2 separate regions of the Homo sapiens genome follow, and region 2 is linked to region 1. A link means that fine-mapping ties the variant in region 1 to the plasma level of a protein whose gene starts in the linked region. Region 1 holds a variant in brackets. A gene starts in the other region. All regions are shown on their forward strands.

Region 1 (16,231 bases):
ATATAACAATTGTTCATTTAATGAATTTTAACTATAACCACACTTGAAAACTTATGCTATTTATCAAACAATTTTTTTTGTATAATGACATTTAATTCCCCAAATCCACTAGGTAACACATACCATAAGAAATCATTTTTCACATTATTATTTCAGGCAAGGACATACTTCTAATTTACTCAACACAATAGCTTCTAATCAAAGAATATCATGTGAAACAAATTTGAATTTCATGTCATGCTTGAATGAGTCCCCAGGTTTTGCATTGTATATGTAAGCCAAGTAAAAGGGAGGAAGATGTAGCAGCATTTCCATGATGCTATTTCTGTGTATTTCAAAAGTCAACTTTACCTTTTTTGGTCAAAGCTTTAAAGAAAAAGACAAGGCTGTATGATTCTAATATTGATTGTGCACATGAAAATCAGTCACCTGCCTTTCCACTACCTTCCAAAAAAGGCTCCACTGTAGAGCTGATGTGGTGATACACAGACTAGGTTTCCTTTTAGTACCAAAGGATTATTACTCAGTATTTAGAAGTACAATCCATTGACAGCTTTCAAGGTGCAGTCCTCTCTGGGAATTGCCCTAAGTTTAAGAGAACTACCGTGGCATTTTCAGGGGGCAGCCCGAATCCCACAACTGGTTAAAGTGAGCCTGTAAAATTCTGGCTTCTTCATTTCAATTCAGAACAATTTGGAAAGGCTGCCCCAACGTCAGAGCTATGAATGGAGTTGGCTGAGGACTTTGTTGAGACCACTCTGCCCAATCTTGCTTTCTTTTCTTCCATTTCACAGTATACTGATCTTGAGGCCACTCCTTAACACACTTTTGGCATGCTAATCTCTGTTTCAGGGGATGCTACCTCTAACAACTTTACATCTCTTTCCAATAACTGCCACTGATTATCACCCTTGATGAGTACAATAAACCTTCATTATCTTTATATTGTGTACAAGCTATGTTTGTTTACTATTATATTGTTACTTATATGAACTTGTTCTCATTGTTTGATTGATAGATTTTTCAATCTGTGAAATTATTTGAATGCATTGGGTTGGGATGGAATGCACCATAATTTTCCTCATTAAAATTCATAAGAGTATTATTTTACTTAAACACAGCAGCAAGACTTTAGGAAAAGTTAAAGTTGTTAAATGAGGTATAGATTCTATTAGAGGTTGTATCAGTCAGAGTGCTCTCACCTGCATTTAACAGAAGCTCCAACCCACTGTGACTTAAAAAATAAGGAAAAAATATTCTCTCGGTTGGTAGGAAGTTCAAAGGTAAGAAATTTCCAGAGCTTAATAATGTAAGAATTCAATAATGTGATTAGGGACCTAGCTTCCTTCCATCTTTCCATTCTTTCATCCTCAATATATCAGCTACACTTCACGGTCACAAGGTGGTGGCCATCACAATAGGCAACAACCCTGAAAGGCTAGAAGAGGGAAAAGGAATGTGACCCTTCCTTGGGTCCATCTCTGAGAACAAGAAAGTCTTCTCCTAAAGCTCTCTTATTAGACTTCACTCATGTGTCTCTGGCAAGAACTTTTGTCAAGCGTTTATTCTTAAACTAATAACTGACAACAGGAATAAAATTACCATGATTGTCTTAAATGGATCAGTATTCATCTTTTGGGCCTGGGGTTGTTCATTCCATTGGACAGCCTTCTGAAGCACAAGGATATCTAGTACTTGAATAGAAGAGGGATTCTGTTATGGAGGAAAAAAGAAAGAATGGCTGCCATGTAGGTGAGCAGTGATGTTAGAAAAGCCTATAAACTTACTTGCTAAGAATTCCTGCCCTTGTTCTTGACTTACAGGTCTCACTCATAGCTTAAATCTAAGAAGCATGATGTAGCAATGGCTTTAGGAGTAAAATTATTTTAAACATTATTTAATAATGAATATTTTGACATATGCCTTGTGTATTGAATAAATGTATGGATATATATATATGCATACATAACCATATACCATAGTCATGAATGTGTGTGTTGAGGACTTTTCAGGATGCATAATAGTTGAATTAAAAAATTAAAAATTTCATTTTTATTATTTATATAAATTGTTTCCCCACTTTATTAAATTCAAGCAAGTCACTTTTATTATGTTGGCATAGTTTATATGCAGGACTAAATATCTGTTTACTATATATAAAATACATATTCTTATTATAAAATAATTCATTCTAAATGTAGAAATCTTTGAATGTCTAAAGGAAACTCTTTTTTGTCTGGTAAGTCTATTATGTTTTCATGCAGCATATATAGCCAGTGGTTTATGGCTCTCTGAGTTGTGGTATAATGTGATATATATCATTTTATTATGTTTTAAAACTTAACAATATACCATAATTAGTTCAAGTGAATAAGTGAGGTTTCACCATATGATTTAGAATGGCTGCATAGTATTCCACTATATGGAAGTAACAATCAAGTAATTAACCTATTATTGTTTAGCATTTAGATTTAAAAAAATTTTTATTTTTAGCTATTGTAAAGGAGTTATAAGTGCATTTGGGTAAATACACTTAGTCAAAGCTTAGATAATTTCTTTAAGATGAATTTCTTGACAAGAAATTGCTAGATCAAAGGACACACATGTCTTAAAGAAAATTGATTCAAATTTCATGTAATAAAATATTTCTGAAAAATTTCTCTCTGTCTCTACCTTTTTAGCAGCACTAGGAATAGATAATTAAAACAATTTCCTAGGGGAACATTTATATGTTCTTTTTGTTGCTTTGCAAAATAACATTTTTTAAAATTTAAAATAAAATTAGTTTTTTTAAAAAAGGTAATATATAAAAATGGTTGAATGTCAAAAGTTACAAAGAAATCATGAAGTGAGAAGTAAAACTATGTCCTAATTTTTGTCCTCTATCCACCCAGTTTCCCTCTCTAGAAATCAGCAATTGTTTCAGTTATCTTTTGCCATACAAACATCCACCAGCCCCAACTTAATATCTTCAAAAAGTATATCTTATTTATTATTTCTCATTCTGTGGGTTGGCTTCGTGGTTCCACTGGTAGTTTTGACTGGACCCTATTGGAGAGTGATTATTTTCTTTACTTGGAGAATGATTATTTTCTTTTTAAAGGTGTGTTTAATCTGATTTTCCCAATTTTTTATTATGGTAAAACACACGTAACATAAAATTTATTATCTTATCTACTTTTAAGTGCACAGTTCAATAGTATTAAGTACATTCATGTTGTTGTGCAACCATCACCACATCCGTCTCCAGAACTCTTTGCGTCTTGCAAAACTGAAACCCTACACCCATGCAAAAATAACTCCCCATTTCCCCTCCCCCTGGCCCCTACAATGGCCACTCTACTTTCTGTCTCTACGATTTTAAGTACTCTCAGTACTTCATGTAAGTGGAATCATATAGTATTTGTCTTTTTGTGACTGGCTTATTTCACTTCACATAATGTCTGCAAGGTTCAATCATGTCGTAGCATTTGTCAGAATTACCTTCATTTTGAGGGCTAAAATAATGTTCCATTGTATGTGTGATGGTTAATTCTATGTGTGAACTTGATTGGGCCAAAGGGTGCCCAAATTAAACATTATATCTGGATGTATCTGTGAGGGTGTTTTCAGATGAGTTTAGCCTTTGAATGGGTGGATTTAATAAAGTAGAGCGCCCTCCCCAGTTGGGTGTCATCCAATCCACTGAGGACCTGAGTGGAGCAAAAAGCAGAGGAAGAAGAAATTTACCCCTTTTTGCTTCCTGCCTACCTGTTGAGCTGGGACATCAGTTTTCTTCTGTCCTTTCGCTGGAATTGATGCCATTCACTCCCTTGGTTTTCAGACCTTCAGACTCAGTCTGGAGTTACAATATTGGCTTGTCTGCTCTCTGGCTTGCAGAAAGCAGGTTGTGTGACATCTCAGCCTCCATAACTGTGTAAGTCAATTATTCATAATAAATCTCTTCCTTTATGTATATCCTCTTGGTTTTGTTTCTCTGGAGAACCCTGACTAATATGATATATGTATACCACATTGTACTTATCCCTTCATTCCTCAGTGGACACTTGGGTTGCTTACACTTCAGCTAATCATGAATAATGCAGCTATGAACATGTGTGTATGAATATATCTTCCAGACTCTGATTTCAATTCTTTTGAATATGTACTCAGAAGTGGAATTGCTGACTCATATTTCTTATTTTATTTTTAATTTTCTACAGTGGTTATATCATTTTACATTCCCACTGATAATTCATAGGGGTTCCCCAACTTCTTCACACTCTTGGCAATACTTATTATTTTTGTTTTGTTAAACTTATTTTTAATTTTTAATTGATATCTAATATTACATCTATTTATGGGATACATGTAATATTTCAATACATGTTTACAAATGTGGCAATCAAATCAGGGCAGCTGGGATGTCTATCAGCTCAAACATTTATTATTTCTTTGTGTTGGGAGTATTCTAATTCCTGTCTTTTAGCTATTTTGAAATATACAATAAATTGTTGTTAGCTATAATCACCTTACTATGCTATAGAACACTAGAATTTATTTCTCTGCTCTAACTGTAATTTTGTACACATTAAGCAACCTCTCTCTATCCCCCCACTCTCCTACCCTTCTCAGATGCTGGTAACCATTATTTATTTCTCTAATTTCCACAAATGTGTCAACTTTGCAATTTTCCTTTTGTTATTGGTTTCTAACTTCATCCTGTTGTGGTCAAAGAAGATACTTTGTATAATATCTATCTTTATAGCTCTATTGGGACTTAATTTAGGGCCCAAAATATAGCCCATCCTAGGAAATGTTCCACTTGCCCTTGAGCAGAATGTACATTCTACTGTTGTTGGATAGAGATTTCTGTATATGTCTGTTACATCTAGTTAGTTTGTGGTGGTGTTCAAGTCCTCTGTTTTCTTACTTATCTTCTGTCTAGCTGTACTAGCAAACATTAATATATAATGCCTTTTGTTGTGTCTTGCAATCTTGTATAAAATTTAAAGTCTATTTTGTCTGAAAGTAGTATAGTTACCCATGGTCTCTTGTGTCTATTATTTGCATAAAGCATCTCTTTCCATCCTTTCATTTTCAACCTATTTGTGTATTTAGATCTAAAGTGAATCCTTTGCAGATAGCAAATAGTTGGATCATATATTTTAAAATCTATTCCTCCAATCTCTGTCTTTAGAGTAGAGAGTTTAATCCATTTACATTTAAAGTAATTACTCATAAAAAAGACTTATTTATTTGATTTTGCTAATTGTTTTCTATGTACCTTATAGCTTTTTTGTCATGTGCTTTCTGCATTACTGTCTGCTTTTGTATTTAGTTGATTTTTTAAATGAAGCATTTTTCTTTACTTTACATTTTATTTATATATTTATTTTTCCAGATTTCTTAGTCTGTTTTTGTATTTTTTTAAAATATCAACTTTTATTTTAGATACAGGGGGTACACGTGCAGGTTTGTTACATGGGAATATTGCATGATGCTGAAGTATGGGGTACAATCCTGTCATCCAAGTTGTGAGCATAGCACCCAACAGATTGTTTTTCAACCCATGCCCCTCTCCTTTCCCATATAATAGTCCCCAGTTTCTATTGTTCCCTTGTTTATCTCCATGTATGCTCAATGTTTAGCTCCCAGTTGTAAGTAAGAAAGTGTGGTATTTAGTTTTCTATTCCTGCATTAATTCACTTAGGATTATGGTCTCCAACTGCACCTATGTTGCTGCAAAGGATTTAATTTCATTATTTTTTATGGCTAGGTAGTATTTCATGGTGTATATGTACTACATGTTCTTTGTCCAGACTGCCATTGGTGGGCACTGGGTTGATTCCGTGTCTTTGCTATTGTGAATAATGTGTGAAGAACATATGAATGCATGTGTCTTTTTGGTAGAATGATCTATTTTTCCTTGGATATATAC[CT/C]AGCAATGGGATTGCTGAGTTGAATGGTAGCTCTGTTTTGAGTTCTTTGAGAAATCTCCAGGCTGCTTTCCACAGTGGCTGGACAATACCCACTAACATTGTATACGTGTTTCCTTTTCTCTGTGGTCTTGCCAGCATCTGTGTTTTTTGACTCTTTAATAATGGCTATTCTGACAAGTATGAGATAGTATCTCATTGTGGTTTTGATTTACATTTCTATGATGATTAGCGATGCTGAGCATTTTTGCATGCTCACTGGCAGCTTGTATGTCTTCTTTTTAGAACTGTCTGTTCATGTCCTTTGCTCATTTTTTAATGGGGTTGTTTATTTTTTACTTGTTGTTTTCTATAGAGTCTGGATATTAGGCCATTGTTGAACACATAGTTTGTGAATATCTTCTCCCTTTTTGTAGGTTGTCTGTTTACTTCTTGATAATTTCTTTTGCTGTGCAGAATATCTTTACTTTAATTAGATCCCACTTGTGTATTTTTATTTTTGTTGCAATTGCTTTTGGGGGCTTAGCCAAAAATTCTTTGCCAAGACAAATGTTGAGATGAGTATTTCCTAGCTTGCCTTCTAGAATTTTCATAGTTTGAGGTCTTACATTTAAATCTCTGGTCCATTTTGAGTTAATTTTGTATATGGTGAAAGGTAGGGTTTCAGCTGCAATCTTCTGCATATGGCTAGCCAGTTATCTGAGCACCATTTATTTAGGGAGTTCTTTCTCTATTTGCTTTTTTGGCCTTGTCAAAGATCCAATAGTTGTAGGTGTGTAGCTTTATTTATGGGGTTTCTATTCTGTTCTATTGGTCTATGTGTCTGTTTTTGTACCAGTGCCATGAAAAAATGCTCAACATCACTAATTATCAGGGAAATGCAAATTAAAACTACAATGAAATATCACCTTACTCCTGCAAGAATGACCATAATTTAAAAGCAAAAAAAAAAAAAAAAAAAATTAGATGTTGGCATGGCTGTGGTGAAAAGGGAACACTTTACACTGCTGGCGGGAATGTAAACTAGTACAACCACTATGGAAAACAGTACAGAGAGTCATTAAAGAATTAAAAGTGGAACTACCATTTGGCCCAGCAATCCCACTACTGGGTATCTACCCAAAAGAAAAGAAGTCATTATATGAAAAAAACACATGCACACGCATGTTTATAGCAGCACAACTCACAATTGGAAAGTATGGAACCAACCTTAGTGAACATCAACCAATGAGTGGATAAAAAATATTATATATATATATATGAAATAATGTCTTTTGCAGCAGCTTGGATGGAGCTGGTGGCCATTATTCTAAATGAAGGAACTCAGGAATGGAAAACCAAATATTGTGTGTTCTCAATTATAGGCGGGAGCTAAGCTATGAGGATGCAAAGGAATAAGACTGATATAGTAGACTTTAATGGGGTTATTTTAATGGGGTTATTTATTGTTTACTTGTTGTTTCCTTTAAGTTTTCTATAGAGTCTGGATATTAGGCCATTGTTGAACACATAGTTCAATATCAAGATATTCACACAGTGAATATCTTCTCCCTTTTGTAGGTTGTCTGTTTACTTCTTGATAATTTCTTTTGCTGTGCAGAAGATCTTTACTTTAATTAGATCCCACTTGTGTATTTTTATTTTTGTTGCAATTGCTTTTGGGGGCTTAGCCAAATATTCTTTGCTGAGACAAATGTTGAGATGAGTATTTCCTAGGGATTCATAAGGGTGGAAGAGTAGGAGTGGGGTGAGGGATAAAAAACTGCGTATTGGGTACAGTGTACACTGCTCAGGTGACAGGTGCACCAACATTCCAGAAAGCATCACTACAGAACTTATCTATATAACAAAAGATCACCTGTACCCCAAAAGCTATTGAAATGAAGAGTAAGTTGTTTAATTTCCATTTATTTGTGTACTTTTGAGAAATCATCTTGATATTGATTTTTGTTTTTGTTGCACTCCGCTCTGAGAGTGTACTTGGTATGATTTCAATTTTTTAAATGTATTGAGACTTGCTTTTGTGGTTGATCTTAGAATATGTTCCACATGTGGATGAGAAGAATGTATATTCTGTAGTTGTATGCAGCTATGTAAACCTTTTCATAGGTCAAGAACTTTTTTTAATCTAGGCGCTCCAATGTTGGGTGCATATATTTACTATGGTTAAGTCTTCTTTTGAGATTGTACTCATTATCATTACGTAATGCCTTCTTCATCTTTCTTAATTGTTAAAGGTTTAATGTCTGTTTTATCTAATGTAAGAATAGTGACACCTGCTTTTTTTTGTTTCCCATTTGTTTAAAGTCTGCTTTATTTAATGTAAGAATAGTGACTCCTGTTCTTTTTTCCCCCATTTGTATGGTAGATCTTTCTCCAATTCTTTGACCCTGTGGATGTCATTACATATGAGATGGGTCTCTTGAAAACAGCAGATGATTGGGTCTTATCTTTTTATCCAGCTAGCCACCCTATGTCTTTTAAGGGGGCATTTAGACCATTTACATTCAGGGTTAGTATTGATATGAGATTTTGAGATTGAGATTTTGATATGAGATTTTGAGATCATATTTTATGGTATGAGATATGAGATTGTGTCATTAGCTGGTTGTTATGTAGACTTGGTTATGCAGTTGCTATGGTTATGTAGTGTCTGTGGGCTATGTGCTTAAGTGAGTATTTGTGGTAGCAGGTGTTATTCTTTTGATTCCATGTTCAGCACTCTCTGATGGACCTCTTGTAAGGCTGGTCTAGTTGAAATGAATTCTCTCAGCATTTGCTTGTCTGAAAAGGATTTTATTTCTCCTTCACTTATGAAACTTACTTTGGCAGGGTTTGAAATTCTTGATTGGAATTATCTTTAAGGATGCTGAAAATGGGCCTCAATATCTTCCATCTTGTAAGGTTTCTATTGAGAGGTCTACTGCCATCCTGATTGAATTCCCTCTGTACATGACCTGACCCTTCTCCCTGGCTGCTTTTAAGATTTTTTTTCTTTTGCATTGACCTTGGTAAATCTGATGACTGTGTGCCTCAGAGATCATTTTCTTGTGTATTATCTAGCCAGAGTTCTCTATATTTCGTGAATTTGCCTATTAACCTCTCTAATAAGATTTAGGAAATTTTCCTGGACTATAACCTTAAATATATTTTCCAAGTTGCTTATTTTCTCTCCTTCTGTCTCAGGGATTCCCATAAATTATAGATTTGCTTTCTTTACATAATTTCATATTTCTCAGAGGTTTTGTTCATTAATTTTTTAAAAAATTTGTGTCAGACTGAGTTGATTCAAAGAACCAGTCTTTGGGCTCTGAGATTCTTCCCTCAGCTTGGTTTATTCTGTTGTGAATACTTCCAATTGTATTATGAAATACTCGTAGTGAATGTTTCAGCTCAAGAAGCTTATTTTAGGTCTGTCTTATAAGTACTATTTCATCTTTCAGCTCTTGAATCATTTCACTGGATTGTTTGGCTTCCTTGGATTGGGTTTGAGCTGTCTCCTGGATCTTGATGAGCTTCCTTGCTATTCAGATTCTGAATTCGATGTCTGCCATTTCAGACCGGCTAATAACCATTGCTGGGAGCTAGTGGGCTTGTTTGGAGGTGAGGGGACACTCCAGCTTTTTGAATTGCTACAGTTCTTGCATTAATTCTTTCTCATATGAGAAGGCTGGTGTTCCTTGAACTGTGGTGTATATTGAGTATAGTTAGTGCATTCTGTTCTGGAGGTTTTCAGAGGGGTAAGTCTCTGTAGAGGGTTTTTTTATATTAAATTCTTATCTTTGGTTTCTGTATTAGTCCATTCCCATGCTGCTATAAGGACATACTCGAGACTGGGTAATTTATAAAGGAAAGACATTTAAGTGACTCACAGTTCCATATGGCTGGGGAGGCCTCAGGAAACTTACAATTATGGCAGAAGGGGAAGCAAACATGTCTTTCTTCATGTGGCAGCAGAAGAGAGAAATGCCGAGCGAAGCGGGGAAAGCCTGTTATAAAACCATCAAATCTTGTAAGAACTAACTCACTATCACTAGAACAGCATTAGGATAATTGCCCCCATGATTCAATTACCTCCCACCAGGTCCCTCCCATGACACATGGGGATTTTGGGAACTACAATTTAAGATGAGATTTGGGTGAGGACACAACAAAACCATATTAGTTTCTCAGTGGGGGGAAATTAGCAAAGTGTTTTTGGTGTTGTAGTTTGGACTGCATTCCAGTAGATAACACTTGAGAGCAATGGGTGGTAGATAGGCTCCTTTGTGTATCCTTGTGTTGCAGCTGTGCTCTGTGGTGTGAAGGGCAGAGAGGTGACCCCCACATGTTGTCCTTGTCTAATAAGTTAGAAATTGAGTGGGTCACCAAATTACAAAAAGAAAATCAACCTTATGAAGATTATCTATTTCAAAAAAGTAAGTTTACCTCTCAACACATGTCTCAATGTAGTTGTGGTGGTCAGTTGAGGTAATACTAAAGGAACCTTCCAACTCTTTTTTTTTTTTTTTGAGATGGAGTCTCACTCTGTCACCCAGGCTGGAGTGCAATGGCGTGATCTCGGCTCACTGCAAGCTCCACCTCCCAGATTCAAGCGATTCTCCTGGCTCGGCCTCCTGAGTAGCTGGGATTACAGGCGCCCGCCACTACACCTAGCTAATTTTTGTATTTTTAGTAGAGACGGGGTTTCATCATGTTAAGCAGGCTGGTCTCGAACTCCTGACCTCAGGTAATCCACCCACCTTGGCCTCCCAAAGTGCTGGGATTACAGGCATGAGCCACTGTGCCGGGCCCCAACTCTTAAGGAAAAACACACACACACACACACAAAAACACAGGTACTGGGAGAAATCTCTCAATTGATTTATGACTCTTACTTCTTCATAAGAGAAAAGTGTTGGACATTTGTGATAAAAATTAAACTGATTTACAATTTTAAAAGTGCCAGAGTGTGTTACACAAAGCATTAACCACCATCTAAGATGCTACCAGGATTCTATGTTTAGGCTATAATTCTTACTATGCCTCCATTATGAAAATTCAAAAAGCATTTTAAAGGCTCTTAGAAGTCTCACCTATGGAGTTTGGTTTAACTCAAGTTAAAAAATAGAGATATGCTATTCATTCTTTAATATTTATTGTCTGTTACCTAAATACCAGACACTATACAAGATTCCTTGATACAGCATAGTCACCTTTTATGGAGCTTACCTTCTAATGGGTGAGGCCAAGAATAAGCAAGTTAAGAAATACATTTTAAATAAACTTACAGGAAATAAATATAGATTTTTATAAGCCTAAGAAGGAAATGACCAAGGTGGTGTAATAAAGAAAGGTCAGAATTGACCTAGAATGGGTGATCAGAGGCATCTTTTCTGAGTTATGGTAGATCTATGATTTTGTACAATCTACATCTTCCTCTTTATTTTACTGGAGTATATCCTCAAAAAAATTTATGGAAAGGGCTGCATGAGAGGTAAACCTCTGCAGTTTTCACATGTCTCAAAATAGGTTATTTTTGTTTTCTTATTTAATTGACAGTTTGACTGGATATAGTAGTCCTTTCATAACTTTGAAGGTCTTGCTCTGTTGTCTTCTCCCTCCATTTTTTCTGGATCATCTGATGCCAGTCTGATTCTTCTTCTTTTTTAGGAGACCTCTATTTTAATTCCATAGGCTCAGCATCTGGTGATACCTGCAATAAATGGGATATAAGGCATTGTCTGAATAAATCGTGGAGGATGGTAGCAAATGTTCCCAGCATTAATCCCTAATATTTTTCTCCACTAAATAGCAGCTTCTGGGACTGTGCTTCCTAGAGCTATATAAGGCTATATGGAAACAGTCTTCACTCAGTGGAATGGTGGTGTCCATAGCAGCATGGGGTCATGGTTTTGAAAATTCCCAGGCATTCATTATACTAAAACAAATCCATCAAATACAAGAAGGATTCTTGTCCTTTCTCTGATTTATCCTCCACACATGAAAAAGCAGACTTCCACAGATGCATAAACTTATAACCAATGGCAGGGCCAAAGCCACAACTTTATTCCATATGCAGTTGTTTAACTGCTTTTTTTTTTTATTAACAGAAATACCATGGTGGATGTAATCATAAAGTTACTTCATTTTTTATCTACTATTCCTTTAAAGGAATAACAGCTGTTTAACATCTTCAGTCCACTGTTATAATAATTGTTGTTATTATAACATATAACTTAAATATAATAATAATTAGTATTGTAACATAGTTATAAGAAGAGAGAAGGGCTTAGAGGAAAGCAGCAGGAGCTTGACAAATACCTGTATGATTGTCTAGATTCCACTCTCTTTGGGTTTGTCAAGTTTAAAATCTGACACATTCTTTGACAATACTTTTTTGAATTCTTTGAAGATATCGTATGTATCAGACACCTCATATGCCTTACCTCCCATCTTCTTGACTAATGACCTTTTGCTTCAGTCACTGCTCTGAGAACCACAGAGTTCAGAAGTAACTGGTTGCATCTTATCTCTGGTGCACCATACATTTCTTTCTTTCTGCAGTGTGGATTTTCTGATGCTACTGTGTATGACACCTCTGGGAACCCATTTGAAACACACAGGCAAGTATGAGGGAGTTGCTGCCCCATAGATAAATGCTTTTTTTCCCTGTCTCTCAGGAAGAAAGTGGACATTTTTAAAAATTTTAATTTTTGATTTTTATGAGCACATAGTATGTGTATATATTTATGAGGTATATGAGATATTTTGATACAAGCATACAATGTATAATAATCACACCAGGGTAAATTGAGTATCCATCACTTCAAGTATTTATCATTTCTTTTCGTTACAAACATTCCAATTATACTTTTAGTTATTTTTAAATGTACAATAAATTATAGTTGACTGTAATCTCCCCATTGTGCTATCAAATACTAGATCTTAGTCATTCTATCTAACTACATTTTTGTAGCTATTAGCCATCCTCACTCCTGCCACCCCATTACCCTTCTCAGCCTTTGGTAACTATCATTCTACTCTCCATCTCCATGAGTTCAATTGTTTCAGTCATTAGTCCCACAAATGAGTGAGAACATGTGAAGTCTGTCATGTAGACAATTTTGAGACACATTCTACCTTGCTCCTAGCTCAATAACACACTTGCATAAGCTTTCCTCTATTCCTCTTATTTCTTGCCTGTTTCCCACTCCTTTTCATTCACTTTACAAAATAGCATATCTGTATTCAAACTCTTGTCTCAGGCTCTGCTTTCTAGGGATAATCCATACAAAATCATACAATCAGTTCCCTTGACATGAGTAAATGCACGCATTCAGCTGATCCCAAACTACTTCTTCAGTCTGTGGGCAGCCCATGGTTTACTTACAGCTTCTCTCTCCTGTCTTTTTGTGCCTGCAGAGTCTTCTTGGACAGCACCTAAGATGGTGCCTATTTCAGCACTCTCTTTGCAAAGAAGCCCATTTCTGGTGCATAGAACACATACAAATCCTAAGTGACAAAAACTCTGGGCATGCAGGCTGACTCGAACGCACCCATCTTTCTTTGTTCTACTACCAGTCAGCCTCTCTTATGTTAAATTTTTCAGGAATGGGGAGGACACAAAGCCACTGTGGCAGCAAGGCTCAAAGGACTCATTTTAAACTCTCCAAGTATTTTCCTCAAAACTCATTCCCTGCCCATTATGGTCTCCACTTTGAGGGCAAGGTAGGATTCATAGCATCACAGCAGCTCTCTCCAAAATATTAACTTTTAATTTGACCCTTTTATCTTCTCCAAATTTCTTTCGTAGTATAAAGGTGGATCTTCAACTAAGAATTGCAAAAACTGGTTATCAAAGACTACCTTTACATGTCCTGCATAGATACCTCACAACTTGATTTGAATTGTGACCTTTATTGTCTTGGGACCTCAGCCAAGAATAGTTCAAACTGAATATTATTACATATACAAAGAAAAATAGTTTTATGGGTGCTCTGAGTCCAAGATCTGATTAGGATACAGAACTGTTTGATTGTAATTAATGTTGTGGCATATTTGAAATAATTATAAGGATGGAAAGTTCCTAGTGCTTAAAGAAGAGTGAGGGAGATAACAAAACATTAAACTTAAGCTCTCTCTCAATTTTAGGAAATAACTGATGGACAAGTAGATATTGAATGAATTATGTATGATGGCTCTTCCAGCACTCAAATCCTTTGTTTATTTCTTTGTTGGTGATTGAAGATATAACCATTTCCTCATATAAAGCGGTTTTCACAAACTTTCTATAACTGTATTTTGGGGCCTCAAAAGGAAGAAAAAAATGATCAAACTGATGAAGAAAGAATGGGAAAATAAAAGGAATAATTATAAGCCAGAGTAAAAAATACTACTTAGGCATATACCAATTATTTCTGCAAAATCCACAATTTATGGAAAGAAATCTCAATGTTCACATATTGATCAGCTTTTTAAAAAAATTATACTTTAAGTTCTGGGGTACACGTGCAGAATGTGCAGTTTTGTTACATAGGTATACACGTGCCATGGCGGTTTGCTGCACGAATCAACCTGTCATCTACATTAGGTATTTCTCCTAATGTTATCCCTCCCCTACCCCTCAACGCCTGACAGACCCTGGTGTGTAAATGCAAATCAAAACCACAATGAGATACCATCTCACGCCAGTTAGAGTGGCGATCATTAAAAAGTCAGAAAACAACAGATGCTGGAGAGGATGCGGAGAAATAGGAATGCTTTTACACTGTTGGTGGGAGTGTAAATTAGTTCAACCGTTGTGGAAGACAGTGTGGCAATTCCTCAAGGATCTAGAACTAGAAATACCATTTGATCAGCTTTTATTCATACCCACAAAGAATACTTTGTAATAGAGATTTCTCACTGATTTGGGGAAAAAAAAGTGTATTCCATTAACGTATTAGATTACTGCTTCATCTCATCAACTCTTATTTTTACCACCACAACAAAACAGCCTATTTAAAAGCAAATATTGTACCATATCAATCCTTCATTAATGAATGAGCCTAACGAGCAGAGAATTGTCCAGGTTCTGTTCACTATCTGGCTATTCATAGTAATGCATTGTCTGAAATAAAGTCAGATTTGGGTAACTCTTGCACCAAAGCCACTGACAAAGATTTATATGGTTTACCATAATGAGTTGACTTCTCTTTGGATAACGACAGTGACTAATGCTGTACCTATCTTGGTGGAGGCATTTTTTTATCTTATCCATGTTTTACGGAAGGTGATCTTTGGTTTACAGAATCGTGGAACTGGAAAATATATTTAGTGTTTACCTCATTCATTCCCTTATTATGAATGAGAAAATTGAATCCAGAGGCATTAAATGAGACATGTTAGGCTAATGGCAAAGAATTGTCTAGAACTCATGCCTTGTAATTCCAGAGCCCTATGCTGTGAAAGATAAAAACATTAGTTTTTTCTGTAACCCAAAAACAGGCATTATGACATTGCTTTCTGAAATAGACATATGCCAGTTAAAATATGGTAGAGTGCTCAAGTTATATGTGAAACACAGGGCTTTTTATTTTCAAAATGGGAAAGGATGTCAGCTCTCAGTGTTTACTTGATATTTGAGAGTTATTTCCCTTATATTTGTAATCACACCAGAATGTGGTAAAGATTAACAAACCAATGATGTTTATGACAAGTCTTTGTTTTTTTCTAGTTGTTCATAACTACCATCAAAAGCTGAGGTTCTAGAATGTCCATTTAAACATCCAGGGCACTACTGTCAGCAAGAGATCATTAATCCAGTGAGAGTATAATTAAAAGAACAGTCTTCCATCCTCCCACTCCAATTTCCAAACCTGAATAAGATGAAAATATATCTTTATTCTTGTTGCTTTCCACTTAGGGTTGTAGTGGCTACCTTACCTAAAAATAAGATTACATTGTAAAGCAAGATGTCATTTCAAAGTGTTTGTGTGTAGCTATAGAGGGCTATATGGCTTTGTTGCTTGAAGAGACTCTTATCTATCAACAGATGTGTAGGCATGGTCTGGTTGTCAGAGAATGAATAAAGAGAAGCTGATGATGCACCATACCATAAAGTGAAACATTATTTCTGCTGCAGCAAGAGGAAGATTATATCGCACATATGAAAAATTTCCTCCTTCAATATGAGTGTCAACTGCATGGTTTCTGAGAAGTATAGTTTCATGTTGCATGGGATGTGTGGGAGGTGAAGGCAGTTAGCTTCTGAATATTACAGCGTTGCCACCACACGTTAATGGAGAGACCTTGAGATGGGCCAGGCATTGAGTGCCATAATGCACCCTGGT
Region 2 (16,231 bases), not on the chromosome of region 1:
ATTTACAATTTTAAACGTCTAAAAGAGGATTTTTTTTTTATTCCACTGCTGTGTAAACATGTATTTCCCCATTCTTTCATATCTCAATCAATGGCATCCCCATACAGAGTTGTTTCCATCAAACAACAAGGAAACATTCTTGAATCTTCCATTGCCAGTATCCAAACTCTTCAGAATGTCCTGGAGGTTGTAACTGTGAAATATATAGAGACTCTTTCATCATCTCTATGTCTCAATAGATATCATCCTAGCCCAATCCGTCATAATTTTTCATCCAGAACAAGGGTTGCCAAACTTTCCGTAAAGGACCAGAAAGTAATTTTGTTGTTGTTTTGCAGGATATACAGTTTCTTTCACAATTATTCAACACCGTCATTACAGTGTGAAAGTAGCCATATGTAAAATGTGTGCAAATCATTGCAGCCGTGTTTTGCTAAAGCTTTATTTACAGACATGTGGCAGACCAGACTTAGACCATCCTGATAGTTTGCTTAGCTTTCACCAAGATTGTTGGAGTTGCCCTCTAACTTGAGTTTCTTTTTCTTTCTTTTTCTTTTTTCTTTCTTGAGATGGAATCTTGCTCTGTCACCCAGGTTGGAGTGCAGTGGTGCTATCTCAGCTCACTGTAACCTCCGCCTCCTGGGTTCAAGTGATTCTCCCGTCTCAGCCTCTTGAGTAGCTGGGATTACAGGCACACATCACCATGCCCGGCTAATTTTTATATTTTTAGTAGAGACGGAGTTTCGCCATGTTGGCCAGGCTGGTCTTGAACTCCTGACGTCAGGTGATCAGCCCACCTCGGCCTCCTCAAGTGCTGGGATTACAGGCGTGAGCCACCATGCCCAGCCTAACTTGAGTTTCTTAATCCAAAGTTGACACTACGACATTTCCACACAGAAGTCAGATTAAAAAAAAACAAAAACAAAAACAAAAAAAAAAACAGATCATACCTTCTTGTAACATAACATCCTTGAATTGCTTTCTACTGCAAATAAAATAAGTTATAAACTCTGCATCTTGGCCTAGAAATTTCTGCATGACCATGTCCCTGATGACCTCTGTGATCTCACTCATGTCATTTTCCCCCTTTCTAAGTTCCAGCCATCAGCTGCTACTCTTAGTTATGAAAACATAGCAAACTCGTCCTGCTTCTGACTTTTGTCCTGCCGTGTGTTCTGCCTGGAACCCTCATTTCTATGCTCTTTGCAGGTGTGTATCATTTCTATTCTTCTGGTGTCAGCTTAAAATTTCACCTTCTTAGTGACCATTGTTCTAAGCTAAGCATTCCCAGCCCATGATCTTTTTGATCAAGTGGTGATGTTACTCTGACTCATAGATCTACCATAGTCTCTATATTGTTTCTTTGACTGTTTTATTTTTACTTCTCCCACTAGCAAATGAGGAGAGTCCCATGAGGACAAGGTCCTGTACTGCTCTGTTCATCATGTATCTTGAGCACTAACACAATGAAGATTCTCCGTAAATAGAAATTGGGTATTTGAATGAATAAAATGAAAATAGAGAAAGCTAGGTGCAAATGAAGAGTCATTCTGCAAGGCAGGGAGAAATTAATTGAGAAAGTTTCTACCAGACAATGATAAAGAGTGACATAGAGAGGGAGAAGAAGAGGGAGAAAGGGGAGGGAGGGAGGGAGGGAGAGAGAGAGATAGAGAGAGAGAGGAATTGAAAAGACTAAACCAGGGAAGGTTCAAATTTGTGCTGAAGGGAACAGAAGAGCTGACTAAGACAAAATAAAAGACTTTATGTGGCATTGAATCAGCAGAAAGAAATTGGGAAACATGAGGTGCTGTGATCTGGATGCTTGTATGACTTCTTAAAAATTTTCTTGACACATATATTAATCCATTTCCACACTGCTATAAAGGATTGCCCCAAACTGGGTAATTTATAAAGAAAAGAGGTCTAATTGATTCACAGTTCTCTATGGCTGGAAGCCCTTAGGAAACTTAAAATTGTGGCAGAAGGCCAAGGGGAAGCAAGACACATCTTACATAGCAGCAGTGGGGAGAGAGAAACAGAGAGAGAAGTGCCACACTTAAAGCCATCAGCTCTTGTGAGAACTTGCTCACTATCACAAGAGCAGCATGGGGGAAACCACCCCTGCCCTAGGAACCCTCCTCACCCCATTATTCAATCACCTCCCACCAGGTCCCTCCCTCCACATGTGGGGATTACTATTCAAGATGAGATTTGGGTGGGGACACAGGGACAAACCATAACAACAGATATGGTATACCTTATTATTGTTATCATTACTATTATTATATTATAGACTTATGAAGCACTGCAGAAGTATATTCTGAAGGCTTGATGAGAAAAACAGGCCAGTAAGAACATTCTAAGCATTTGTCAGACAGACTCTTTTTAATGCTTTAAAGAAATGCTTTTCAAACATTAGTGTGCAAAAGAAAAATCTCCTAGAGAGCTTGTTAAAATACAGATTCCTAACAACCTCACTCTCTCATCCTAATTTAGTAGTGGTCCTGGGACACCACCCAGGAATTATTTTTTCATTGAGATTACACTCACCTGCTGTAAAATTCACCCTTTTAAAGTGCTCACTTTAGTGGTTTTCAAAAAATGTTCACAAAGTTGTGTAATCATCACTATTATCTAATTCCAGAATATTATAAGCATCCCCCAAAGCCACACCCATTACCAGTCACTCCCCATTCCTCCCTTGTCAAGACCCTGGCAACCACTAGTTTTCCTGTCCAATTGATTTGCCTATTCTGAACATTTTATTTAAGTGGAATCATCCAAAACAGCTTTTTGTATCTAGCTTCTTTTACTTTGCATAATGTTTTCTTTGTGCTGAATGAAATTAGCATAAGGCCCATCCATGTTGTAACATAAATCAGTACTTTTATGCTGGATAATATTCCATTGTAATAATATAAAGAACTCTTATACCACATTCTGATTATCCATTTTTCAATTGTGGACATTTGGTTGTTCCTACTTTTCGGCTATTACAAATAATGTTGCTATGAGCTTTCATAAGTATGTTTTTGTATTGACATATATTTCCAATTCTTTTTGTTGTATTCCTTAAAGTGAGATTGCTGGGTCATATAGAAGCTCTATGTTTAACATTTTAAGTAATTGTTAACTGTTTCCCAAAACTGCTGCGTTATTTACATTTCCACCAGTAATGTATGAGGGTTCTAATTTTTCCACATCCTTGAAACACTTTATATTATCTCGTTGTGGTTTTGATTTATATTTCCCTAAGCACAATGAAGAATACATTAGTTAATATTGATGTTGAACATTTTTTCTCATACTTCCTGGTCATTTGTATATTTTCTTTGAAGAGATGTATATTTTAATACTTTTCCCAATTTTAATAGCGTTATTTGTCTTTGTGTCACTGCACTGTAAGACTTCTTTATACATTCTGGATACTAGGTGCTTACCATGTATATAATTTGAAAATATTATCTCCCATTTCATGGGCTGTCTTTTCACTTTCTTGTTAATGTCCTTTGATACACAACTTTTTAAAATTTTAATGAAGTCCAATTTGTTATTTGGTTGTTAGTGTCATATCTAAGAAATAATTATCTAATACAAGATCACAAAGATCAAAGCCTAACTTTTTTCCTAAGAGTTTTATAGTTTTAGCACTTATATTTAGGTTGCTGATGTATTTTGAGTCCAATTTTGTGTATGGTGTGAAGTAGTGGTCCAACTTCACTCTTTTGTATATTGATATATGATTGCCCAGCATTATTTATTTAAAAGACTATTCTTTCTCCCATTTATTTATCTTGGCACCCTTGTTGAACACCAACTGATCATAAACTTATGGTTTTATTTCTGGACTCAATTCTATTGCATTGGTATATATTGTCCACCGTAGGCCAGTACTACACAGCCTTGATTGTTGTAGCTATGTAGCAATTTTGAAATTGAGAAGTATGAGTCTTGCAAATTACTCCTTTTTAAAGATTGTTTTAGCTACTCTGGGTCTCTTATTTCAGAATTTGCTTTTCAATTAGATAGAGTCCTTTTAACTTCTCATACTTTGTAGGCAGGGTACAAGGAGGCTGTGATTTAAGGTTTTGGTACCTACTTGATTAAAGATCCTGGGCTGACCTTGGTTGATTCCACAGTTTTTTTTAGCTTACATCATAATATCAATTTTGAGGCTTAGAAAATTTCTTATATCAGGATAAGAAGAATGAGAGTTTACAGATTTAAAAAAAAATATAACATTTCGTATTTCAAAATGCCAGAATTCTTTGCTCTGAGGAAAGTAACCGCATATGTAATCTGAGAGAACATGTCCCCAGCACTTTGCAAGCATAAACTAATGACTTCCTCTCTTACCTGTGCCTTTACCAGAGTCTAGCTAAAGACAGTTGGAGGAACAGGGAGTTGGCAGTCCTACTCACGGTAACTTCATAGTGTACTATAAATCACATGATGGCAAAAAGTATGCAGAACTTTTTCATTAAAGAATGTTCTTACAGAAATTCACAGTGAAAGAATCTGAACCATAACAGAGGATAGGAGAGAACAATAGAAAACACTTCAGAAGGGTAAAAACTGAGTTATTCCAGAAAAAAAAAATTTTGTAGATAAACCAGAATTAATTTTGCCCCAGAAAACTAATGTGAGTCCAGGTTAGATTGACTGATTGATTAATTGATTGGCCCAAAATGGAAGAAGACATCAAATGCAAATGTGAGACTGCCAATTGAATATAAAACAAAAATGATTTAATTAAACTTTGTGAAACACGTTGTCAATACTGGAATCAAAGTCGATGGATTATTGGAGTCAGTTATTGTAATTTTGGGACAGGCTTACAGAACAGGATCATATTTTGAAATACTAACTAATGTGTTTTCCTCCTGCGTACCCACAGCAGCAGAGTCAGCATATTCTATCAACTTGTTACTCCCACAGTGCCACATAGCACCTAACCTAAAACTAGCAAATAATCCACTTCCATTTAAAGGAGCACTAAAATTATAATGCTTTCTTGTTGCCACCATTGAATATCTACCCTTAGCAGCATTCAGCATGTCACTCATTGAGGATGAAGAAGTAATCATAACTACCTATTTATTTAAATCTTGCTCAACTTTTTTTCCAAAATATGACACATGGACAATCCCTTTCTCGAGGCCCTACTTATTTACAGGAACATTGCAGATATATTGTGGGTTTGGTTCCAGACCACTGCAAGAAAATGAATATCAAAATAAAGTGAGTCGCAAAATTTTTTTGTTTCCCTGTGCATATAAAAGTTGTGTTTACATGATACTGTAGTCTATTAAGTGTGCTATGGCATTGTGTCTACAAAATAAGAATCCCTTAACTTTAAAATACTTTATTACTAAAAACTGCTAACAATTGTTTAAGCCTTCACCACGTCATAATACTTTTCCTGGTGGAGAGTCTTGCCTCAATGTTGATGGCTGCTCACTGATCAGGAAGTTGGCTGCTGATGGTTGAGGTGGCTGTGGCAATTTCTTAAAAGAAGTCAGCAATGAGATTTGTGGCATTGATTGACTCTTCCTTTCACAAAAGATTTCTCTATAGCACATTATGTTGTTTGGCAGCATTTTATCCACAGCAGAACCTCTTCCAAAATTGGAGTCAATCCTTTCAATTCCTGATGTTGCTTTATCAACAAAATTTATGATGTAATACTCCGTATCCTTTGTTATCATTTCAACAATCATCACAGCATTTTCACCAGGAGTAGATTCCATTTCAAGAAACCACTCTTTGTTCATCCATAAGAAGTAATTCTTCATTTATTCAAGTTTTGTGATGACATTGTAGCATTCAGTCACATCTTCGGGCTCCACTTCTAATTGTCTTACTATTTCTACCACATCTGCAGTTATTTCCTCCATTGAAGTATTGAACTTCTTAAAACTATCCATGAAGGTTGAAATCAACTTCTTCCAAACTCCTGTTAATGTTGACATTTTGACTTCCTTCTATGAATCACAAATGTTAACAGTACTTAGAATGATGAATCCTTACCCAAAATTTTTCAATTTATTTTTCCCAGATCCATCAAAAGAATCACTATCTCTGGCAGCTACAGCCTTACAAAACGTATGTCTTAAATAATACTATTTGAAAGTCAAAATTACTTTTTGATCCATGGGCTGCAGAATAGATTTTGTGTTCACAGGCATAAAGGCAACATTAATTTCTTTGTACATCTCCATCAGAATTCTTACATGACTATGTGCATTCTCAATGAGCAAAAGAATTGAAAATACACTTTACAAGGGAGATTTACAAATGGCAAGCAAGCATCCTTAAAGGTGTTCAACATCATTAGTAATCATGAAATAATAATTAAAAGCTTAATGGGATACTACTAAATGCCTACCAGTAGCTACAATTTTAAAAAGAATGATGATGATGATATGGAGTAGTCAGGGCACACTTCCTTTGTGGGTGGGAGTATGAAATGGTAAAACTCTTTTGACAACAGTTTACAGCATGGCTTATTGAATATTTTGAGCCCACTGTTGAGACCTACTGCTCGGGAAAAAAATAATTTTCTTTCAAAATATTACTGTTCATTGAATTTCCTAGGAACCATTATGAAAATTCAACAGATGGCATATCTGTATCTGTTCCTGTACTTTAATTGGTTTCATGGGTCTCTCTGTCTCTCCTTACTCCAACTGTCCTTGTTAATGTGTTTTATATTGTGCCTTGAAATCAGATAGTGTGGTTTCTCTTTGTTCTTCTTTTTCAAAATTGAGCTGTTATAAGTCTTTGCTTATTCATATAAATGGTATAAGTGATGTATCAATTTCTCAAAAACAGCTTAATGTGATTTTTATTTAACGTTGCATTGAATGTGCACACTGACTTGGGGAGAATTATCAGCTTAGCAATTTTGAGTTTTCTAATTTATAAACATGATATTGACACTTTGTTATTTGCTTCAGTCTTTTTATCTTTTTTTTTTGCAGCCTTGTGATATACAGCATAGAATTCTTGTTCATCTTTTGTTCAATTTATTCTTAAGTGTTTTATAATTCTGATGCTATGGTAAATGGTATTTTAAAAATTCTATTTTCAAATATTTTGCTGGTATAACACAGAAATAAAGTAGACTTTTACATATTGTCTTTTTATCTTCAAATTTTATTAAATTCACTTATTGGTTCAGTATATTTTATAATTTATTTTTAGTTTTCTGTATTAATGACAATTTTATCTGCAAATAAGGACAGTTTTATTTCTTCCTTTTTCATTTTTATGTCTTTATTTCTTTTTTAAAACTTACTTCACTGCCTATAACCATTAGCATAAAATAGAGTTGAAATACTGAGACTAGAAATAATTGTCTTGCTCTTTTTGAAGTAGATCAAGTGTTATTCAAATCATTTGTACATTAATTAATATTTTTGTCTACTTCTATTAGTTACTTAACGGTATTAAAATTTCTAACTGTGATTGAAGATAATACCTGTTGTAAGTTCTAATTGGTAGTTTTGTTTCATGTAATTTGAAGCTTATTTAGTAAGCATGTATAAATTTATAATTTTTTTTATTTATTGACCATTTATCATTATGAAATGTGCTTATGTATCTCTGATAATACTTGTTTTCTTGCAGTCTGTTTTGCTGAATATTTATAAGGCCACTCTAGACTTCATATGGTACTGGTTGCATGGTGTTTTTCTTTCCATTCTTTGATTTTCAATCTGTATATGCCTGAATTTAAGCAATTTTTTTTCAAACCATCACAGAAAGCTGGCTGGATATAGTTCAATACAAAACTTTCACAACTTCCATTTACTACAAAGAACGGTCTTGTGCACAGCAACATTGTGGTCTATTTCTAATACATGAGCCACCACATGTTTTCCTGTTCTATGACATAATCCCTCCCGGTCATAGCATTCATCAGTCTGGTCTCAAATTCAAGTTAGGGAAAAAAAGTCAAAACTGTTTCTAACGTCAGAAATATATTGTGTTCCAAAGAAAATAACTTCCTGTCTGATTTACTAATACTGCAATTTTTGGAAATCAAAATGATTCAAAGTAAAATATTTTGTTAAAGCAATTTGGTCAATTTACTCTTCAGAGGAAGTCACGCTTTAAAATCCCAAAATGCTAGTAAGAAACTTATAGTCCAACATTAGCCAGAATTTCTAGGATTTTGTGACTTTTGGCTTGGCATTGCAACACCTTTTATGTCAGTGTGAGCAATTTCCTAATTCCCAATTCTTATACTAAAAAATAACATTTAAAATATGCATGAAAATAGTTATTCACTGGAAATTCATAATGAGATTTAATGAATTAGTGGCAAAAAATCAACTCTAAGACATATTTTTTTCTTATTTTTTTCTTTTGATCTTTGTTTTGTCGATGTGGTGAGGGCACTGGTGGTAGTGGTGGTGTACTTGTGTGTTTGTCTTTTAAGTTCATGAACATTGCCTGGGATACTTGTCAAATGTTAGGTCTTCCCTATTTTTTCAAGCAGTGACAAGGAAGGAAAAAGACGGTTTTGAATGTCTAGGAAATACAAAAATCACACATATACAAATATATTACAATTATTCCTATTAAAACGGCAATCCTGAGGTTCTACTATATATTAAATGAGAATTAAATATATTATGAAGTAATACAGAAGACAGTATCTGCTGAAAAATACAAGTTATGAAGGTAATGTTGATCAGAAATTATATATCAAACAAGCATTATTTAGCACAGTATTAGAAATCTAACTTACATAAAAGACTTTTGTAGTATAGAAATGCCTTCTCAAAGTTATTTAAAATATCTAACATTAAAATATACATACATATATATATATATATATATATATATCTTTCCTTAGCCCAGAAGAAATTTTTGAAGAAAGCAATGAAGACTTCCTGTTTCTGAAAAACTTAAGGCTTTTAGAAACATTTAAAACTTTAATTCTTATCTTTTTTTATCCTATGTAGCAACTCTTGTTGTCAACAAAAACTTTTCTAACGTTTGCACAGTTGGACAACAGATAACTAGCTGCCCCATCCACACAAGAGGTGGGGAAGAGAAGCCCAGCTATGATTATTTGAAATCTAGCTCAGTACAGACTAAGTCAAGGTTCATTGATTTAGTCCTCAAACAGATATAATCTGAAATGAGCAGCAAGGAAAATTAGATAATTGGCAAAAGGAAGAAAAATATTCCTGGCATTTCAAAGCAAAGGTGAAGCAACCCTGGAGCAAAGTCATTCCCTGGATGATAGTACTTCTTCATTGGACTACCAGCTCAATTTAGGAGACAGACTGCATTCACATTGCAAAGTAAACTCAGCAGTTGCTGGTGTTTTTTCCTTTTTCTTTGCATACATGCAAGTTACTCTATCCTCCACTTAAACTCTTATTGCCTTCCTTATACTGAAACACTTGATATGCTTAACCTGATAATAATTATTGCAATTATATAGCATTTCTTAAAGGTAATACAAAGAATGGTGAATATAAAAAATAAAATCTTGGAAAAAACATTTGAAAAGGCCTAACCTAAGCCAAATACTAAATCATATAATTAAAGGCTTCTCTAGTTAGAAAAAATCAATTTAGAATGACATACACACACTGTTAACATTCAACGCAGTGTAATGTAATCAGATTTTTCCATTGTCATTTATCTCCAACAATCTCTATGTCACAAAAACTATGTAATTTGGTTAATACATTAGTTATATGTATTTTTTCTTTTAATATCAAGTGCCTTGCCGGATTCTGAACATTCTTTTGAACAGTTTGAATTCAAAGACAGAAAATATCGTTGATATCATTCTAACTTTCCCTAAGAATAACCCAGAAATAATTTCCCACATAGGAGGCAGCCAATTCAAAATTGTAAAGTTTAAAAAAATACAGGAGTTAATGACAATAAACAGCCCCATTCTTTTCTCTTTAAGATCTACTTGTAAGGTAAAGAACACCGTAAAATTAAAAAGTTGTTATCATTATCCATCACCAAGTGCTCATAGACTGTTCGCTGTTGAACTAAGAAATTATGTGAGGTTGTGTGAGAAATGTAAGATATCGTCACTGATTTTAAGGAGTTCGTAGTTGACTTGAGGGAGATAAAAGTAAAATTAAGGAGTAATTAAACTCTGCCTCATGCAGTGGTTATTGTAAGTACACTAGATGTTCGAAGAGCAAAGGTGGAAGGAATACTCTATTCTGGCTTTGTCAGAATAAGCTTTTTCAAAGACAGGACTTTGAATTTGCCTTGAAGAAAGTGAGGGATATAGAAAGTGGTTTCAAGTTGAATATGTTGGAAGTCTCTTTTACCCTTGATATTACTGTGGTCCCAAAGATAGGAGTGAATGGATTGAGGTTCTCAATAACTTAAAATGTGGTTTCTGGGAAATATAATAAAGTGGTTACCCAGATTGTGGAAAGCCACTGTGGGGTGTTTGCCAGCAACTGTGAAGAAAGTGGTTTGTAATCTGGAAACTATTAAAAATTACTGGGGCACGTTCTCTGGTGTTTAACTGCCAATTCTGGATTTTCTATTACTTAACTCATTCTCTGGGAGAGAGATTTTTTTTTTTTTAATCAGCCTCAAAGAATAAATGTGAAGCTCAAGAAATAATGAGCATAAAAGTGTTTTGAACGCCACAAACTCTTTGGAATGTTTTCATTCATATTATATTAATCTGTGGTACAATGACTAAAATAGGATTGATTTTGACAGGGAGTAAACTTTTCAGGCCATCAGGATGCAAATGGCATTGGAAGAATTTTTCCCTTATTGTTGGGAACAAAAATAACACAGAGCTTTTCTCTACCAGCTGGACACAGTGCAGGTAACACAAATGGTTTTCCTTTAAACTAGTGAAAAGGGAGCAATGACTTTTAAAGTCCTATGTCTGTCGTAGTTCTTCATGCTTTCCATCTTAACCTCAGGGGATCTTTGCATCATTCATGTTCCCTCCTGTATTTTTACAAGGCCAACATCAGAGAATGCCTAGATAGAAGCCAGACATGGACAATGACCCAGGCTGATTTTCATGGGAAGCCAGGAAAAGCGACACATTGCTTCCTGATTAGGTTGGGTAACCCAACAACTCACTTTTATTGGGGACTTTCTATTACTTGCTTATCAACTGCAGAAATATTTTTTCTTCTTACATTCTATAAATAATCCTTTGTGAATTGATTCAGAGTGCAAAGCAGGTAAGACATGTGTACTTATAAGACCATCAGGAGGAACTGGCAATCTTGTCTCATGATTCCTCTCTGATTTTACCATTTGGTGCCAAAAACAAATTCATATGTTCATTTATGTTTAAAATGGCTTATTCAGAACTAACCCACATACAGACAGGGAGAGAGAGTTTAAAAGTCAATAACCTATGTCATCTCTAAACTTTTTTTTAAACAAAGCCTTATACTGTGGTTTATTCCCTGTGGTTAAGTTGAATTAATTGCCTAGGAGCTGAGTCACATTTTTGAAGTTTTGTCTTAGCCATTTCAGCAAGGCTTATCTTTTGTCTTTAGACACATTCTAATCTTTAAAATGTCAATATGCTAAATCTGCAGGCTGTTTTCTACAGATTACCACTCCCCAAAAAGATGAAGGATTCCATTTGCTGAGTCAGGTATGATGTTGATGGTGTCAGGAAGCTGTGAGAACTTCTCATTTAGCTTCCCACAAACTGAAGGCCAAACCACCCAGCCTTCCTCAGCCAATGAATTTCTTGTTTCCTTCCAGAATCAAAATTGTAAAGGTCTGTGACACCTCTTTCTTGCTCACCAATGGAGGTGACAGGAGAGGAAGTTAATAAAATTCCCCAGTGTCACAAGGGACAAGGAAAAGAGTTGTGTTCCATAACTGGCTTCTCAATGCCGTCATGTTTACTGATGACCTTTGCTGGCCTGCACTGAGGACAAAGTTCTTCAGAACCAGCCAGAAGAGGATCTAGTTAGACTTCTGTGAAAGAAAGTCTATGTGCCATTCCAGTGCCGTACTCATGCCTGCCATGGAGCAAGACGGTGGAAGACACTTAAACCTTCAGTGCTTTAACTCCTCCACGGATAACAAAGAAGGAGAGAGGGAGAAGCTGGAAGCTACTTCACCCTTCAATTTCAGGAGGCAGTGCAGGGCTCACTGGGGACTAGAACAGGTCTGCAGAAACAGCCTTGGTCACCAGTAATCATGAAATTAGATGGTTCCAGAAGCCTATGGGGAGAATTCCTCCCCCCATGAGGTTGTTTGGGGGAAAACAGACTGGGTGCTATTATGCTGCCCAATTGATGCAAATCTCTAGAAGAAGCTTTCACATGAGCCCCTCAAATTCATCAACCTCCTACAGCATCTCCAAATGGTGTCAAAAACACACCTGGGGGTGGGACCAGAGCTGGGGCAGGCCCGGGCTCCCTGGCAAACTTCAGTCTATGCTCACCATACTACACTTCACTCCCAATAAGACCAAAACCTCTTCCAATTCAATAGCATAGCAACCGCCAAAAGTACATTTTATCTTCCATGGCAATTTGCTGGGTGATTTTTGTTTGAAGATATTTTTGTTTATTAAACTGCCTCAACACACATATGCTTGCTAAACTACAAGTATACAATTTCTAATAAACAGATTTCACTTTGGGGCCAATTCAGGCAACTTGTTGACTTCAGGTGGGGATAGAGCCTCTTTCATCACGTTATCTTGGCTTCTAAAGCTGTTTGAAATCCAGATAATCAAAAAGTCATTCAAGAAACCTAGAATGACCTGCCTGCAAGAAGAGGAAGGACTCTCAGTTTAGGGCAATAATCATGAATAACATTTCCTGAATAATAGTAATAATAATTAGAAAGGATTGACTTTCAGAAATTTTTCTCAAGTCAAAGCTTCCACTACTATGGTTCCAACTTTTCTCTCTTTTTTTTAATTTTATTATTATTATACTTTAAGTTTTAGGGTACATGTGCACAATGTGCAGGTTAGTTACATATCTATACATGTGCCATGCTGGTGTGCTGCACCCATTAACTCGTCATTTAGCATTAGGTACATCTCCTAATGCTATCCCTCCCCCCTCCCCCCAGCCCACAACAGTCCCCAGAGTGTGATGTTCCCCTTCCTGTGTCCATGTGTTCTCCTTGTTCAATTCCCACCTATGAGTGAGAACATGCGGTGTTTGGTTTTTTGTCCTTGCGATAGTTTACTGAGAATGATGATTTCCAATTTCATCCACGTCCCTACAAAGGACATGAACTCATCCTTTTTTATGGCTGCATAGTATTCCATGGTGTATATGTGCCACATTTTCTTAATCCAGTCTATCATTGTTGGACATTTGGGTTGGTTCCAAGTCTTTGCTATTGTGAATAGTGCTGCAATAAACATTCGTGTGCATGTGTCTTTATAGCAGCATGATTTATAGTCCTTTGGGTATATACCCAGTAATGGGACGGCTGGGTCAAATGGTATTTGTAGTTCTAGATCCCTGAGGAATCGCCACACTGACTTCCACACTGGTTGAACTAGTTTACAGTCCCACCAACAGTGTAAAAGTGTTCCCATTTCTCCACATCCTCTCCAGCACCTGTTGTTTCCTGACTTTTTAATGATTGCCATTCTAACTGGTGTGAGATGGTATCTCATTGTGGTTTTGATTTGCATTTCTCTGATGGCCAGTGATGGTGAGCATTGTTTCATGTGTTTTTTGGCTGCATAAATGTCTTGAGAAGTGTCTGTTCATGTCCTTCATCCACTTTTTGATGGGGTTGTTTGTTTTTTTGTTGTAAATTTGTTTGAGTTCATTGTAGGTTCTGGATATTAGCCCTTTGTCAGATGAGTAGGTCGCGAAAATTTTCTCCCATTTTGTAGGTTGCCTGTTCACTCTGATGGTAGTTTCTTTTGCTGTGCAGAAGCTCTTGAGTTTAATTAGATCCCATTTGTCAATTTTGGCTTTTGTTGCCATTGCTTTTGGTGTTTTATACATGAAGACCTTGCCCATGCCTATGTCCTGAATGGGTAATGCCTAGGTTTTCTTCTAGGGTTTTTATGGTTTCAGGTCTAACGTTTAAGTCTTTAATCCATCTTGAATTAATTTTTGTATAAGGTGTAAGGAAGGGATCCAGTTTCAGCTTTCTACATATGGCTAGCCAGTTTTCCCAGCACCATTTATTAAATAGGGAATCCTTTCCCTATTGCTTGTTTTTCTCAGGTTTGTCAAAGATCAGATAGTTGTAGATATGCGGCATTATTTCTGAGGGCTCTGTTCTGTTCCATTGATCTATATCTCTGTTTTGGTACCAGTACCATGCTGTTTTGGTTACTGTAGCCTTGTAGTATAGTTTGAAGTCAGGTAGCGTGATGCCTCCAGCTTGGTTCTTTTGGCTTAGGATTGACTTGGCCATGCGGGCTCTTTTTTGGTTCCATATGAACTTTCAAGTAGTTTTTTCCAATTCTGTGAAGAAAGTCATTGGTAGCTTGATGGGGATGGTATTGAATCTATAAGTTACCTTGGGCAGTATGGCCATATTCACGATATTGATTTTTCCTACCCATGAGCATGGAATATTCTTCCATTTGTTTGTATCCTCTTTTATTTCATTGAGCAGTGGTTTGTAGTTCTCCTTGAAGAGGTCCTTCATGTCCCTTGTAAGTTGGATTCCTAGGTATTTTATTCTCTTTGAAGCAATTGTGAATGGGAGTTCACTCATGATTTGGCTCTCTGTTTGTTTGTTATTGGTGTATAAGAATGCTTGTGATTTTTGTGCATTGATTTTGTATCCTGAGACTTTGCTGAAGTTGCTTATCAGCTTAAGGAGATTTTGGGCTGAGACCATGTCTCTGTTTGTTTGTTATTGGTGTATAAGAATGCTTGTGATTTTTGTGCATTGATTTTGTATCCTGAGACTTTGCTGAAGTTGCTTATCAGCTTAAGGAGATTTTGGGCTGAGACCATGGGGTTTTCTAGATATACAATTATGTAATTTGCAAATAGGGACAATTTGACTTCCTCTTTTCCTAATTGAATACCCTTTATTTCCTTCTCCTGCCTAATTGTCCTGGCCATTGGAGAGGAGGAGCATCTCCCAGACAGCTGCGTGCCTCAGAGAAGCCAGCCTCGCTAACCCCTCAAGCCCAGGGGATGAGACCCTGCTGAATCGCTGCTCTATTTTGGCTGGAGCCACAGCTCCCTCCACCGCGGGGCGGGGCTAAAATGTCCTCCCCCTTAAGGGAGCAGGCAGCTCCTCCCAGCCACCCACCCCACCAATTCCCATCCTCCCGCCCCCCTCCACCAACCCCTTCTTTCCACACTGCCCCCTGAGTTCAGGGAATTTCCCCAGCATCCCAAAGCTTGAGTTTCCTGCCAGTCGGGAGGGATGAATGCAGATAAAGGGAGTGCAGAAGGCACGAGGAAACCAAAGTGCTCTGTATCCTCCAGTCTCCGCGCCTCCACCCAGCTCAGGAACCCGCGAACCCTCTCTTGACCACTATGAGCCTCCCGTCCAGCCGCGCGGCCCGTGTCCCGGGTCCTTCGGGCTCCTTGTGCGCGCTGCTCGCGCTGCTGCTCCTGCTGACGCCGCCGGGGCCCCTCGCCAGCGGTGAGAGCTCCTGGCACTGGGGTGCATCCCAGCCTCTGCGGGGCCGCTGCGTTCCAGGGAACTCTCCCAGCAACCTGCCCTATAAAAATGTCTTTCTTCCCCAGCTGGTCCTGTCTCTGCTGTGCTGACAGAGCTGCGTTGCACTTGTTTACGCGTTACGCTGAGAGTAAACCCCAAAACGATTGGTAAACTGCAGGTGTTCCCCGCAGGCCCGCAGTGCTCCAAGGTGGAAGTGGTGTAAGTTCTCCTGTGTTGCTGTGTCCACTGTGACTTAGGCAAGTCCTCCAGCCTGGGTCGTCAACCTTTGTGGCTCATGGGTGCATCCTCTTTTTCTTTACTTCAGAGCCTCCCTGAAGAACGGGAAGCAAGTTTGTCTGGACCCGGAAGCCCCTTTTCTAAAGAAAGTCATCCAGAAAATTTTGGACAGGTATTTGTCCCTTTGATCTTTGTGGTGTTTTAATATCTTCTATGGAAAGCATATACTTCACAATGTCCTTATTCTCTCTGTAGGATTTAGACTATGCTTAGAATTATAAGGTTGTTAAGAAGAATAAGGAAACTTTTTTTCTGGAATGTTCTGGGTAAACCTTTATCACCAATCTTACATGCCTGAACAATTACACAGAGCTCATTACTGACA

Direction of the effects. Positions count from the first base shown, and alleles are read on the strand shown. Strength reflects both the effect of a copy and how common the allele is.
For the plasma level of the protein whose gene starts at base 15,410 in region 2, allele CT in region 1 goes with a higher level than allele C (weak association).

What was found. A credible set is the group of variants that fine-mapping cannot tell apart. PIP is the chance, under the fine-mapping model, that this variant and not a neighbour inherited with it causes the effect. The UK Biobank Pharma Proteomics Project read protein levels with antibody pairs (Olink). The fine-mapping took linkage between variants from a reference panel, not from the people measured, so its PIPs are less certain.
Region 2: CXCL6 starts here. The variant in region 1 is the best candidate, but not a certain one, in a credible set for the plasma level of the CXCL6 protein (UK Biobank, PIP 0.53).

The regions. Positions count from the first base shown.
Region 1 is chr3:18,191,371-18,207,601 of GRCh38, forward strand. All of the region lies in intron 4 of BALR6 (B-cell acute lymphoblastic leukemia associated long RNA 6), which reads left to right. It overlaps LOC124909351 (a long non-coding RNA gene), which reads left to right. Exons shown (of 2, transcript XR_007095842.1): 2 at 1-2,658. Among named protein-coding and RNA genes, the nearest start is that of SATB1, 230 kb to the right of the region's middle. The variant CT/C (reference allele first, on the strand shown) is at 5,921.
Region 2 is chr4:73,821,269-73,837,499 of GRCh38, forward strand. It overlaps CXCL6 (C-X-C motif chemokine ligand 6), which reads left to right and starts at 15,410. Exons shown (of 4, transcript NM_002993.4): 1 at 15,410-15,591; 2 at 15,696-15,828; 3 at 15,935-16,018. The coding sequence starts at 15,483. RefSeq lists silencers at 11,484-11,778, 15,384-15,678.